Linked DNA regions of Homo sapiens. The protein of the gene in region 1 interacts with the protein of each later gene in a biochemical or structural test. Each region holds a gene or a part of one and is shown on either strand. Other genes may lie near its edges. The genes, in order: CDC42BPA and PPM1A.

Region 1 (7,297 bases):
TGGCTCATGCCTAAAATCCCAGCACTTTGGGAGACCTAGCCCGGTGGATTGCCTGAGTTCAGGAGTTCAAGATGAACCTGGGCAACATGGTGAAACCTTGTGTCTACTAAAATACAAGAAAAAAATTAGCCAGGCATGGCAGCGTGCACCTGTAGTCCCAGCTCCTTGGGAGGCTGAGGCAGAAGAATTGCCTGACCTCGGGAGGTAGAGGCTGCAGTGAGCTAAGATCACGCCACTGCACTCCAGCCTGGGCAACACAGTGAGACTGTATCTCAAAAAAAAAAAAAAAAAAACAGAATGGGAAGCAAGCTGACAAAATACAACCATAAATCACCAGAAAAGGAAGAATCCTAAACCAACTTTTAACTTTTTAGAAAAATAAACTATTAGTCTTATGTCCATTTTTCATAAAGAGACATAGGGAGGTTAAATAACTAAATCACCCAGTTAATAATCAAAGCAGTCAGTCTTAATCCAAAACCCCTTGCTCTTTTCCAGTATATTGGTTTAGAACAGAAACATTTCAGGTTAGGTGTTCTACTTGTAGATATTCACCATGGAAACTCTAAGGAAACTGGATTAAGTGTTATCACTATGAATAGACCAAATTAAACAGAAGGTGTTTTTGTCTTTGATTAAGCCTACAGTGACGTTTAAGCAATCTGAAATAAAACTGAAAGTTAACACATGATTGCACATGACTGAAATAATTCACAATCTTTTCAAAAGATTGTTTTCATCCATATAAGTAGTACTTTGCAGTATAATTAGATCAGGAGTGGGAAGAATGGCACTGGTGAGGAAGAGTTAAAGAGAAAAATAAATCTAAATCAGAAAAAAGAAAAAAGGCCAGGTGCGGCTGCTCACATCTGTAATCCCAGCACTTTGGGGAGGCCAAGGTCAGAGAATTGCTTGAGGCTAGGAGTTCAAGACCAGCGTGGACAACATAGTGAGACCCTATCTCTACCAAAAAAAAAAAAAAAAAAATAAGCAAGAAAACTAATTTTATTCCCCTATATGCTGTCTGTCTTTAAACAATGAAACTAGATTGTCCTCTATGATTATTATCTGGCCTCCCAAAAACTCTGAACAAAAGTTAATAGTAACCACAGCTTTAATTGTTCACACAATGCCAAAATAGCACCAATTATGTTTTCTCCTTAATAAAAGTATATATTTTCTAGTTTCCTTAACAGTATATATAAATAGTTGCTGGCACTAGAAACACAGCGCTTCATGGATGTAATAAATAGTAGTAAAGTTCCCACACTAGTCCAAAAGTCTGAAACCAATGGCCTAGCCAAAATGTGTTACACTGCAAAAAACAATACTTAACACTGTAACAGGATTTTAAAACTATGAGTCCATGATATTTTCCTCTTAAAAATCACAAAGTAATGAATGTAATCTCTTCAGATAGACAATAGTTTTGCAACATCTACAGTAATGAAAGCTGTAAAAAATAAAGTGACAATTTCTGTATTTAATGTAAATGCCTACACATAAAGAAAAGTAAGCTTAATTAGAGCAGGAAAAGGTCATAATTAAGAGATCTCTCAGTAATTTCAAGGACTTTAGGGGTTGACAGCAGTGGTTCATTATGATGTCAAATTTCACTCTACTTTTTAGGGTGCTTTTCTTAGATGTAATTTTACCAACAGCATCACTCATGTTATTTCACCATGATTAAATTTATCTTTCAGTGCACATGACTTTCACACAGAAAATGAAGTTCACAGCCACTAAGTAAAATATAACCTATTCAGATTTGGATTCTCTCTCCAATCCACACGATATCCCAAATTTCTCTCAAAATTTCTTTCTAACCCTGCTACTCAGGAAGTTACAAGGAAAACCATGACCTTATACTGGAAGAACATTTCCCAAAGCGTATTCTGTGAAACACTGGTTGCCAGCCATCCTCCAGACGCTCTGAAAAAAAGCCTATTCCATAGTCAGATAAACTTCATAAATTCTAGGATAATCTGCTGTATTTTTAACATTAAATGTTGTCTAAAATCTTTTCCCAAACTGATTTATTCATATAAACCTTTCCCCTTGCTCAAGCATCTATTAAATATCCCATGGATTTCCAGAACACACTTTGAAACTAGGGAGGGAGGTTAGAGTGAAGAGGCCCTAATCCCAAAAGAGAAGCAAACAGTTCCATGAGGAAGAGTAAAGGCAAACAGTGGGATTGGAAAGGGGGAGCCAGGTCTTTGTGCCCCGTTAACATGAAAGCTAAAGTGCTGCTCTCATACAGTGATAGATAAAGAAACACTAGCCAATAGAAGATTAGCCATTCCCTACGTACTGATTAGAAAAAGAGATGGCAGTCATAGGAAGGAAGTGTGTAGAAGCTAGCTAGAAAGAATAATCCTGGAGTTCTACTCACCATTAATGGAGAAGAAAAGGAAGTCCCCCAGATTTGGAAAGGAGTTTTTTTTTTTGTTTTTTGTTTTTTTTTTTGAGACAGAGTCTTGCTCTGTCGCCCAGACTGGAGTGCAGTGGCGCGATCTCGGCTCACTGCAAGCTCTGACTCCTGGGTTCACGCCATTCTCCCACCTCAGCCTCCTGAGTAGCTGGGACTACAGGCACCCGTCACCGCGCCCGGCTAATTTTTTTTTTTGAATTTTTAGTAGAGACGCGGTTTCACCATGTTAGCCAGGATGGTCTCAATCTCCTGACCTCGTGATCCGCCCACCTCGGCCTCCCAAAGTGCTGGGATTACAGGCGTAAACCACCGCACCCGGCCAAGGAGTTTTTATATACAACAAAAAACTTGTGTCTGGGATAATCCATACTTACAGTGTGGGTAATTCAAAAACAAAAATCACACGAAGTGCAGATGATCACACTTGCAATTCCAACACTTTGGAAGCCCAAGGCAGGCGGATCACTTGAGGGCAGGAGTTTGAGACCAGTCAGGACAACATAATGAGACCCCCCATCTCCACACACACAAAAATTTTTTAATTAGCTGGGCATGGTGGCACATGCTTGTAGCTCCAGCTACTTGGTAAGCTGAGACAGGAGGATCCTGAGCCCAGGAGGTTGAGGCTGTAGTGAGCCATGATGGTCTCTCATAACAATTATTATGCAAAGACTTCTTGACTCATCAAGACAGGGCAAAAGGAGCTAAGCAATTCTTGGTCCTCGATACCTAAAACTGGCAGTTTCCTGAGCAACAAATGATGAGAAAAAATCTGATAGAACTAGCAAATCCTCACCTACATCTACCCTAGAGTTCAGCTGAAGTGATGAGAAGCTAAAACCAAGAAACTACTACCTTTGTTTATAGGTCATATGGTTATCACTCAAACTCAAAAACGTATATACCTCTGACAATCAATCAAAGTCAATGCCCATTAGCCCAAACTCAGAAACGGAAAAAAACAAAGGAAGAGACAATAAACCATTGAAAGAAATACAAGAGTGAAATTAACTCCCCTGCCCATTAAGTTCTTTTAAATTAAAAATACCCAATCATAAAAAAAAAAAATACCCTATCATTCAACAAGTCAGACTGAAGTAGCAACTCAGGAACACAGTATTCATTCTCATTCTCTGTCTCCCTCTCCCTACTCATTCTCTTTTTCTCCCTCCCCCATGTCTCCTCTTCCCATCTATTTCCAAGTCTGTATCTTGCCCATACCTTACACTCTTTCCCTTCACTAGGTTCTTGAGTAAGTCCCTAATCTATCGTGTGTCCTTTTTGAAAAAATGAACTGTCTATATTTTCACTGTTTAACAGTCAACATAGCATAGCTGCACCTACACTGAAGTATTTCAAACTATTTTTATCTCAACCTATAGTAAGAAATATGGGAATAAGGACTACAGGAAAACACAATGTTTTGCACAACAATACTTATTCCTTCTATATTTGATGTACTTTATATTTTCTATTCTAGTCTTTAATTTTTTTTAAATGCTGGTTAGACTTAGTAATTGGTTTTAAAACCTATCACAACCAGCAGGAGAAAAACAATGAGCTACATACGTAACATACTGTCAATAAATGTACCAAATGAGAAAAAGGTCAGAGAATAAATTTTTGACTGCCATAAAAGAGTGGTACAATAAAATATTTATTTGAGCTAAATTATTTTATCCTAAAATAGCCTGAGCTTACTGTGTAATAGTATTCAAGTCCTAGGAATTATGGGACATTTCATAAAATTTCCAACATACTGCACTATTTGTTTTTATATACTGCTATACTAAGGTATGCCTTACATTTCCATATAAAATAAATATATGTCTAAAATTCCTAAAGTGTTAATCCTGACATCCTGTTTTCACTCATGAAGCAATACATTCCTTTTTTAAAAAAGCTGGGTGTGGTGGTGCATGCCTGTAATCCCAGCTCTTTAAGAGGCTGAGGTGGGAGGATCTCTTGAGCCCAGGAGTTCAAGACCAGCCTAGGTAACACAGTAAGACCCTTGACATGGTTTGGATTTGTGCCGTCACCCAAATCTCATGTCAAACTGTAATCCCAGTGTTGGAGGAGGGACCTGGCGGGAGGTGACTGGATCATGGGGGCAGACTTCCCCTTTGTGTTGTGATAGTGAGTGAGTTCTCACAAGATCTGGTTGTTTAAAAGCGTGTAGCATCTCCCCCTTCTCTCTCTTCCTCCCACTCCAGCCATGCAGGACGGGGTCGGCTTCTCCTTTGCCTTTTACCATGATTGCAAGTTTCCTGAGGCCTCCCCTGCATGCCTCCTTGTAGCCTGCGGAACTGTGAGCCAATCAAACCTCTTTTCTCTATAAATTACTCAGTCTTAGGTAGTTCTTTATAGCAATGCGAGAACAGACTAACAAAACCCTGTCTCTAAAATAAAGCAATACATAAAATAAAAAGAGTAATGTTCCTAAAAACAATTATAATACAACCCTGTCTCTAAAATAAATCAATACATAATATAAAAGGGTGATGTTCCTAAAAACAAAAAAATTACTAATGAACATCAAGTATTTCAAAGACTTTAGGGGTTAACAGCACTAGTTCATTATACCTAAGTTCACTCTACTTTATAGGGAATTTTTCCTAGATGTAATTTTATCAACAGCATCACTCCTATGCTATTCCATCATGAATGCCAGTAACCAGTATCATCTGGCAACTACCTCTAAGTGTAATTTCTCTTAAAAAGAGAGAGACAAACAGAAATGTTATAATAATAGCCATTACATCTATTGAACACACTTCTACCATGTGCCAGCATTGTACTAGATAAAATAATTGTAATTACTCATTATCATTCCTAGAATAGAATATTAGGTGGCTAGTATAAAGGAAACAAGTACCCAACCAATATTGCTGATTATTCTAGTTGAGAACTTAAATAAAATAAATGTAATCATCTGTATTAAGTGAACATTTTGATAATTCGGACTGATTAATTAATAAATTCTACTCAGGAAAAGCTAACAATGAGGAACAGCATATGTGAAGAACAAAAGTGTCCTAGAAAAGATACATATCCATCAACACCTCACTTAATTAACACTCGTGTCATAAAAAAAAAGTGAACAGCTTTAAAACTATACTAATAAAAAGAAAAGCTTAAAGCATAGTACCTGCTGATATGCTCTAGGTACAAATTTATTAAACAGACTATTTTCTATGTATATACAAAATCTGAATAAGCTATAAAATTAGTTATTTAGTGATAATTTCTGTATGTTACAAAGTCCAAAATTCAAAAAGCATCAAAATAGTTATCCATGTACAGACAGCCTTGCATATTTATTTTGTATTAATATTATCTTACATTTATTAAGTAAATTGGTAAATAATTCCCCAAAATTCCAATTTCCCATTTCAAAGTAGGGGGTGGCCGATTTAACGAATGATATACTAATTCAGTCATTACTAGCAAATTAGTTTACAATGTGGAAGTTATTTTTACTTCTACAACTCCACTGTAATTTATTCTAGAGTTATGCTGACATCGACTATTACTGTATACACAAACATACAAACCATAATCATTTCAACAACTTAAAACTAAGCAGACAAAAAACATAGTCTTTCAAATACTATTTACTATAAATGAAAAATAATACATCTTATTAAATTTAAATGTGATCTATAGTCTTAAGGCACTTTTATTCCCTTGCTCTAGTGATCATTGGCTTAATCCTCTCTTTCTCTTTCCACTTATTTCCTCCCTCAAGCCATCAGCACCAAAAGCAAGAAAGGCTGTCAAAGAAAAACAACATATCTGACTTTGAATTGTCAGTTTTCTTATTGTTTTGATACTGCTATGAACAAAACATTAACTGTACCAATATAAAAATAAAATGGACTAAAACTAGGAATAAAATGAAATTGATAGAAATGAAGCTGAATACAGCCGGTAAGAATCTTGGCTGACTGTACTTTAAGAGTAATCTATCATCAGCATAAAGATAAGTAGCATCTAGCTGACACTTTCATTAATATAAATAACGAACACAAATATGTAACAACTTGTGTTATTAATACTGCGTTCCTGTTGCAAATAGTCTTTTAAAGATTTAAATAAAAGACAATATTTTTTCAATTATTAAAAATTAAACTTAAAATTACACCATTTAAGGCAAATCTAAATTACCAAATTTAACCCCAACAACAATCCCTGTAAATTTCCACCAGAGTCCCAAAAAATAATGTTTAGAACACTGAACTGAGGTCAATTCACAATTTGGAAATATTCTTAGTCTTAACTGATTTTCACATATTGTTAAGTAATTAAAATAAAATAGGACATTTCCCCAAAATGCAGTTATCAATTCATATGAAGAACATCTGATCTATTTCAATTCTTAAATAGACTGGCACTCTTAACCTAAATTCTCAAATAACTTAAAGACAGCAAATACCACTACTCACTACGCAACTCCTGACAGCCTTTTCCATTCTTAACTTTCTTTTTACTCTTTATCCAGACTTCCATACTAATAAAAATAATACTCAGCCAAATACTTATTTGATATTTGGCTTATATAAAAATATACATAAATGAGGTGTTCTTATACATATATAAGAAACAACATCCAAGAAAACATATTTAATGGAAAATATATATAAATTATTCTGATAATACAGCGAAATATCTCATAACATAAAACTACTTACCTAAACTCTAATAATCAGAAGGCAATGGAGGATACAGTTTTCTCTTTATCATAAATCATTTAAAATTATATTTACTACTGGTACATAGAGTTCTCCCATAGCTTCGCAGATAGGAAAGAATACTAAATGACAAAAATCACAGACTAGAGTGTCATTAAGGAACCATAACTTA
Region 2 (5,664 bases), on another chromosome or scaffold:
GAAGAGGTTCCACTTACATATAAATAAAATAAAACCTTATTTGCCTTACTTTACCTTACTCAGTTCTAAGATATTTTACCTTTGGTTATGAAGCTTCATTACTGTTTTATTACACATTTTACAATAAACAAAATGAGCTCTTGCGGCTCACAGAATTTCACTTTTATTAACAGTTCAACTCTAAAAATTCTCTAATTATGGAAGCCATGACTAGAATCAATTAAACCTGTTTAAGTCACTTTCAGACATGAATGAACACAGGATATAATATAGCCAATGATCAGAATTGGCAGAGGAAATAAACACCTCCTTTCTGCATCCTAGAAACACACACATTTAAGTGCCATTTTGAAGCAGGCACTATACCACAGATACCAGGTGAGGAAGTCCTTTCCCAGACCACTCCCAATTCCCAATTTCAACTCTTCAAGGGAGTAATCATCTACTAGAAGACAGACAAATGGGAATGTTCTTACCAAAGAGAAACTACTCTGGCTTCTTTATTTCTGGAATGTTTCATGACAATAACCATCAACTCAAACTTCTTGGCTTTCAGTAAACTTCCTAAAATTAGGAAGGAACAAATCTAGTTCAAATCCTATCAGATTTATTTCTCAGCTGAAAAAAACAATTCTTTTAAGGTCTTCCAACAGCTAATTTCAAATTCTCCACGTTTCTTGGAATAAAAATGCTGCTTGCAATATTAAACAATCATAAATACACACACATTATGTAATTGCCTGTTTATTTAGTGGCACCAGTTTTCCAAACTAGAAATTATTTCTACTTTTCATCTAACATACAATCTGCAACCATTCGCAGGCTGAATGCAATTTTTCAATGAACTTGAAAACAAACAGTACATTCTTAAAGTTAGAACTGAATTCACATATTTTCTTTGGACCAGGAAATAATACATAATACAAAATATACATTTATGGAATTTCTTTAAAAGTGTGGATCACATAAACTGCAAAGTGGGTGAGTTGCTACGGAGAATTTTGTTACACATTGTATTTAAGAAAAATATTTCTGCAATTATATTATTCTTAACATTTATAGAGTTTAAAAAATGAATATATAATGCAACATGCTTTTAACATGTACATGTCTCTCCACTCATAACATTTATACAAATTAAGTGATATAACTCATTTCAAGAGTGAAATCAATCACTATTGGGGCATATCACTACAAACAAGATATTTTCCTGCAGATATGCTATTTAGTCAAGGGATAACCAGGTAAGATAATGGTTTCTATGTTCCAGAAGTCCCACAAATGGGAATTAAATAAGCTGTCATTAAACATCTAATTTTGGCAACAAATGCAAAATTCTATACGTTTGTTACATTGTACTTATTATATTTTAGAAATCTCATTAACTGTGTGCATTGGTGGTGGTTGTCCGACTTGGATGTTATTTTAACATCCTGAATTAGTAAGTAAATAACCTAATTCCTTAGAATATGAAATGAATTGAACATTTAATGAATCCTAATACTAGAAAGCTCAAAATCTTAAAACCTGGAGATCTGACAGGTAAATAAATGTATTACTTGTTAATATAGTATATCTGCACTATGGAGGCCAAAAATGTTCCAGATACATTCCATTTCTGTTTTACCTCTTTTCTGTTGAATTTCTAAAGTGGCAAATCTTAGAGAAAGACATTAACCTCCAAAACTTCTGAATACTATGTTTTTTTTTCACCTTTTAATCACTTTCCCCACCCCAAATATAATATTTTTTAAAAAGTATATTTTAATGTCAGATTCTAGCCAGGTCCCCTATCTACCTCTAGAGTGAAACAATTCCTTAAAATAGACTCAAGTTATTTTCATGCCCTAGAAATATACTTTTGGGCTTTGCAGGAAAAGGGATGATGCCCTATTGTACTTTAGAATGGGCTCTTAACCAGGGGGCCCATGAACCACTACAATATTGTAAACTTTAGGGAGATATGTATGTTATATACGCATTTTCCTGGGTAAATAAGTCCCTAGGATTCATCAGTCTCAAAACGCCTGTGACCCCAAAAGGTTAAGAAGCATTGCTAAAATGATTTTGTGTCATTCACTGTACCTAATTAGGATATAACTAATTTTGTTCCGCAGCTACCCGATCTCTTACATCAATCTAACTTACTTTAGATAGTACCATACAAATGCACGTTACTAAATAGTCTTATACTGGATCAGGAGGACTATGTAAAAGAAAAAGAAAAACTCTAAACAACTTTTCTAAACATTTAGTTTAATGAGAAAACCATTAGTTGAAAACTGGGTTTTGGAGCAATGAAAAGAAATGAAGGGTTGGGTTTTCTAGTGAAGAAACATTGCATTAATTCTTCTCAGTTGTTTCTATGCTGAAGAATCAGTAACTTATTAATTTCCTTGCTGGAAAAATCAAATTATCTGAAGCAGCAAAGGTTCATTCTTGTTGGTTTATGTGACACAATAGTTCTTATAAATTTACAGCCACGTACAAGGAAGACTTTCCTATGGCTTTTAAAACAATTAAGAGTAATCCTTCCCTACCTATCCCACTGCCATTTCCCCATTCCTCCATCTCCCAAGTTTTCTCATTTTCAGCCCGGTTTAACACAGTATTAGCTGGCCTTGATGAAGTAACACACTAAGCTTTCTTGCTCAAGAAAATGGAATTGGCCTGTTTCTGTTTGAAAAAAAGAGAAAACACCAAGAGGAAAGTAGAGGAAACAAGGGCAATATTTCGTGCAGGATAAGGAAGAAAAAAAGTCCACTTTGTTGTTATATCAACTTAATCTTTTTTCTCCATCTCATAAAAATATAAGTTGTCAACTGTAATTTCAATACCATCTAAGTTTTTCTAATTAGCACTCCTACCTGCTAGTAATATAAATAGGAAAACAGTGAGAGCAGAAGCCACTATCTTAACATACAGAACAATCGAAAGGGAAAGAATCTGTGAACAAAATTAGAAAACGTTCATTTGACAATGAATTGGAACCAATGCCTCTCATCATTTCTATTGAGCATTTTGACTATCAGTAATAACAAACATTTAACTGAGACTTATTATTCTGATCAACAAAACAATACAGTATTATACATTTTGAAAATGTATTCTTAAATATTTCAAGCATATTCCAAGGAAATATACAATTTAAAACATATACAAACCAAAACACATGGCACATAATTGAAGGAAGTAAGAGCAAATTAGGCTTCTAAAATTTTGAACTCTAAAGAAGGCTTCCTAATGCCTAAAAGAAAAACTAGAAGACTAGATACTCAAAAAATGGTAATCTCACCAGCAGTTTCTGTGAGCAAAAGTATATAAAACTCTTTAAGGTCCCTTAGAAGAAAAACCTCAAATGAGAAACAATTATATACTAAGATATTTACACATCTTTTCTAATACCAAATCCTAATACAATACTGTACAAACAGCTGAGTTTGAACTAAAAGTATATACCATGAAATTCAAAATTAAAACAAAACGAAAAATGGAGAAAAAAAGCAGTACCCAATTTCATCAGTTCTTTCAGAAATCACAAGTTGAACTCCAAATGAGTTTGTCCAGTAAAGATGGGCAGTGAAATTATTTTAAAATATTAAAACACATAGTAATAATTTGGCTAAAATTTGATATTAACACTGGCAGTGTGTTACAAAAACACAGAGTTCTACTTAAGATAAATTTAGCTAGAGATATTTACATTTTTAAATGCCTTAAACTCAAACCCCACCTACATTTCCATGGCTGGATAATTTTCAGAAATCTACTACCTATTCCTCTGAGTTACTGCTGTCAGCAGGAAGAATAAAGGCCGTTGGATAAATGCAATCAAGGATACTGAATGGGCTTAAGCCTCTTCAGTCCAATTTTATTCTTATGCTAAGCAAAATTTTCTTCTGAATTACTCTTTAACTTTAGAGAGAAGAAAATAAACTGGAGAACAGTTTTCAGGTGAGTAAAGGAAGTATAAACAAGGTCTTTAGGGCAGGGGCCTGCCTTGATCAGCTAAGTACCTGGTAGATAGCAGGTGGGCAATAGATATATATATATATTTTTTGATGAGTGATCCAGTTATAATACTAACATACACTAGATTATAAATTGTCCAGATGTAAACTTGAAGCCAAGGATCTACTCATTTCTTTACAGTCCCAATGTGCTTAGCCTAGAACAGTGTTTTACCAATAATACTCGAAACATTTTGTAAAAAAACTGAGTTATTAGCTGGGTTAATATATAGTCCTATGAATGATCACTAAAAGTACTGCTGTAATTCAGATTACTTGAATTACATAACTAATTTATTACTTAATCCAAATTTCTTAATGTTGAGATTAGTATAAAAAATTAAGTGGCTAGAGCAGTTGCATTAAGTACTCTAGAAGCAAGTTAATGCACTATAAAGTAAAAATATGTTTGAGATACTTCCAAAGCTGAATTAAGTTATCACTTTGATTTTTTAAAGTATATGCTAATATTGAGAACTGCTTCTATTGTCTATAAAAGTATATTCCCAAGAAAGTGGAAATTAGGAGATTCTACCCTGTTAATGAAAGAAAGATCAGTGAAATTTTTTAATGTTAGGGTAAAACAGAGCCTGCTATACAAAATGTTATTTCCTATTCATAGCAGCAAATAAGACATTTAAATGATAAAAGTATATTTTGAGTACTATATTATCATCACATAAGAACTTTTTCCCTCCAAAGAACAGAACACATCAAACATTTTTGAGGCATTGCCCTGAGATGCTAATTAGCACAAAAAAAGGGGATGGGGGTGAAGAATTTAAGTGGTACAAGAATGAAGTGCACAATAGAGGTGCAAAAGTGCCTTTAAAAAGTATGGTTGGTTTCCCCCCACTATTACCTCCAGGAATCAGGAACACACACAGTCTGCTGTTATAATGTATACTTCCTTCCTGTATTTTTATAGTAAAAAAATTATTAGTATGGCAGTGCTGACTCATGTGGAAAAGATTTAGTCTTCTCACATCACTCAAATACGGTTCTCTCTCGTGTCCAAGCCTAATTTCAATACTAATAATTTTGACAGGAATATTTTAATTTTCTCTTGTTTAAAGACTCAAAAAAAAAAGGCTCTAAATATGCTGTTATGGTTTGAAATACAGCTTTCCATCACATACTCTACTTGTGACTTAAGTTTTGCATCTCAAAAGATTACACAGTCCAGTTCAAAGTTTTGCAATTTCTGGAACTAAAGTTGTCAGTCTACTTAAAATATTAAGGAACTGGTTTGTTATAATAGGGATTTAGCTTTCAGTACCAGTATGTCTGGTAATTAGTCTATACTAGAAGCACTGGTATTCATTAAATGCACATTTAGATGCTTGCAAAGCCATAACTTAGAACATTATCATACTTCGCACTCTACCACAGATTTAGACATTAAGTATTTATTGTAAGTATGGAATTGGTTCTGTAATTTCAACTGATATGAATTTCTAAATATAAATAGTACTTCAGTTTTTCCTCATTCATGCTGGAATAAGATATAAATTAAATACAATTAAGTTACATTTAATCACCTCACAAAATAAGAGGGATAATGAAAAGATTTTGCTGGTATTTAACTACTTAAATCTGAGACATTTCACATTACTTTCCCCACTACTCCCCTAACTTTACATTAATTTTAAGG

Evidence for each region.
Region 2: of the proteins of CDC42BPA (region 1) and PPM1A, one has a biochemical effect on the other in vitro, tested with the Homo sapiens proteins (one study listed by BioGRID).

What each region holds. Positions count from the first base shown.
Region 1 is NC_000001.11:227,308,236-227,315,532, forward strand, and holds part of CDC42BPA (serine/threonine-protein kinase MRCK alpha), read right to left. Parts: intron 1-7,297. UniProt on the Homo sapiens protein: Serine/threonine-protein kinase which is an important downstream effector of CDC42 and plays a role in the regulation of cytoskeleton reorganization and cell migration. Regulates actin cytoskeletal reorganization via phosphorylation of PPP1R12C and MYL9/MLC2.
Region 2 is NC_000014.9:60,294,152-60,299,815, reverse strand, and holds the end of PPM1A (protein phosphatase 1A), read right to left. Parts: 3' UTR 729-5,664; downstream 1-728. UniProt on the Homo sapiens protein: Enzyme with a broad specificity. Negatively regulates TGF-beta signaling through dephosphorylating SMAD2 and SMAD3, resulting in their dissociation from SMAD4, nuclear export of the SMADs and termination of the TGF-beta-mediated signaling.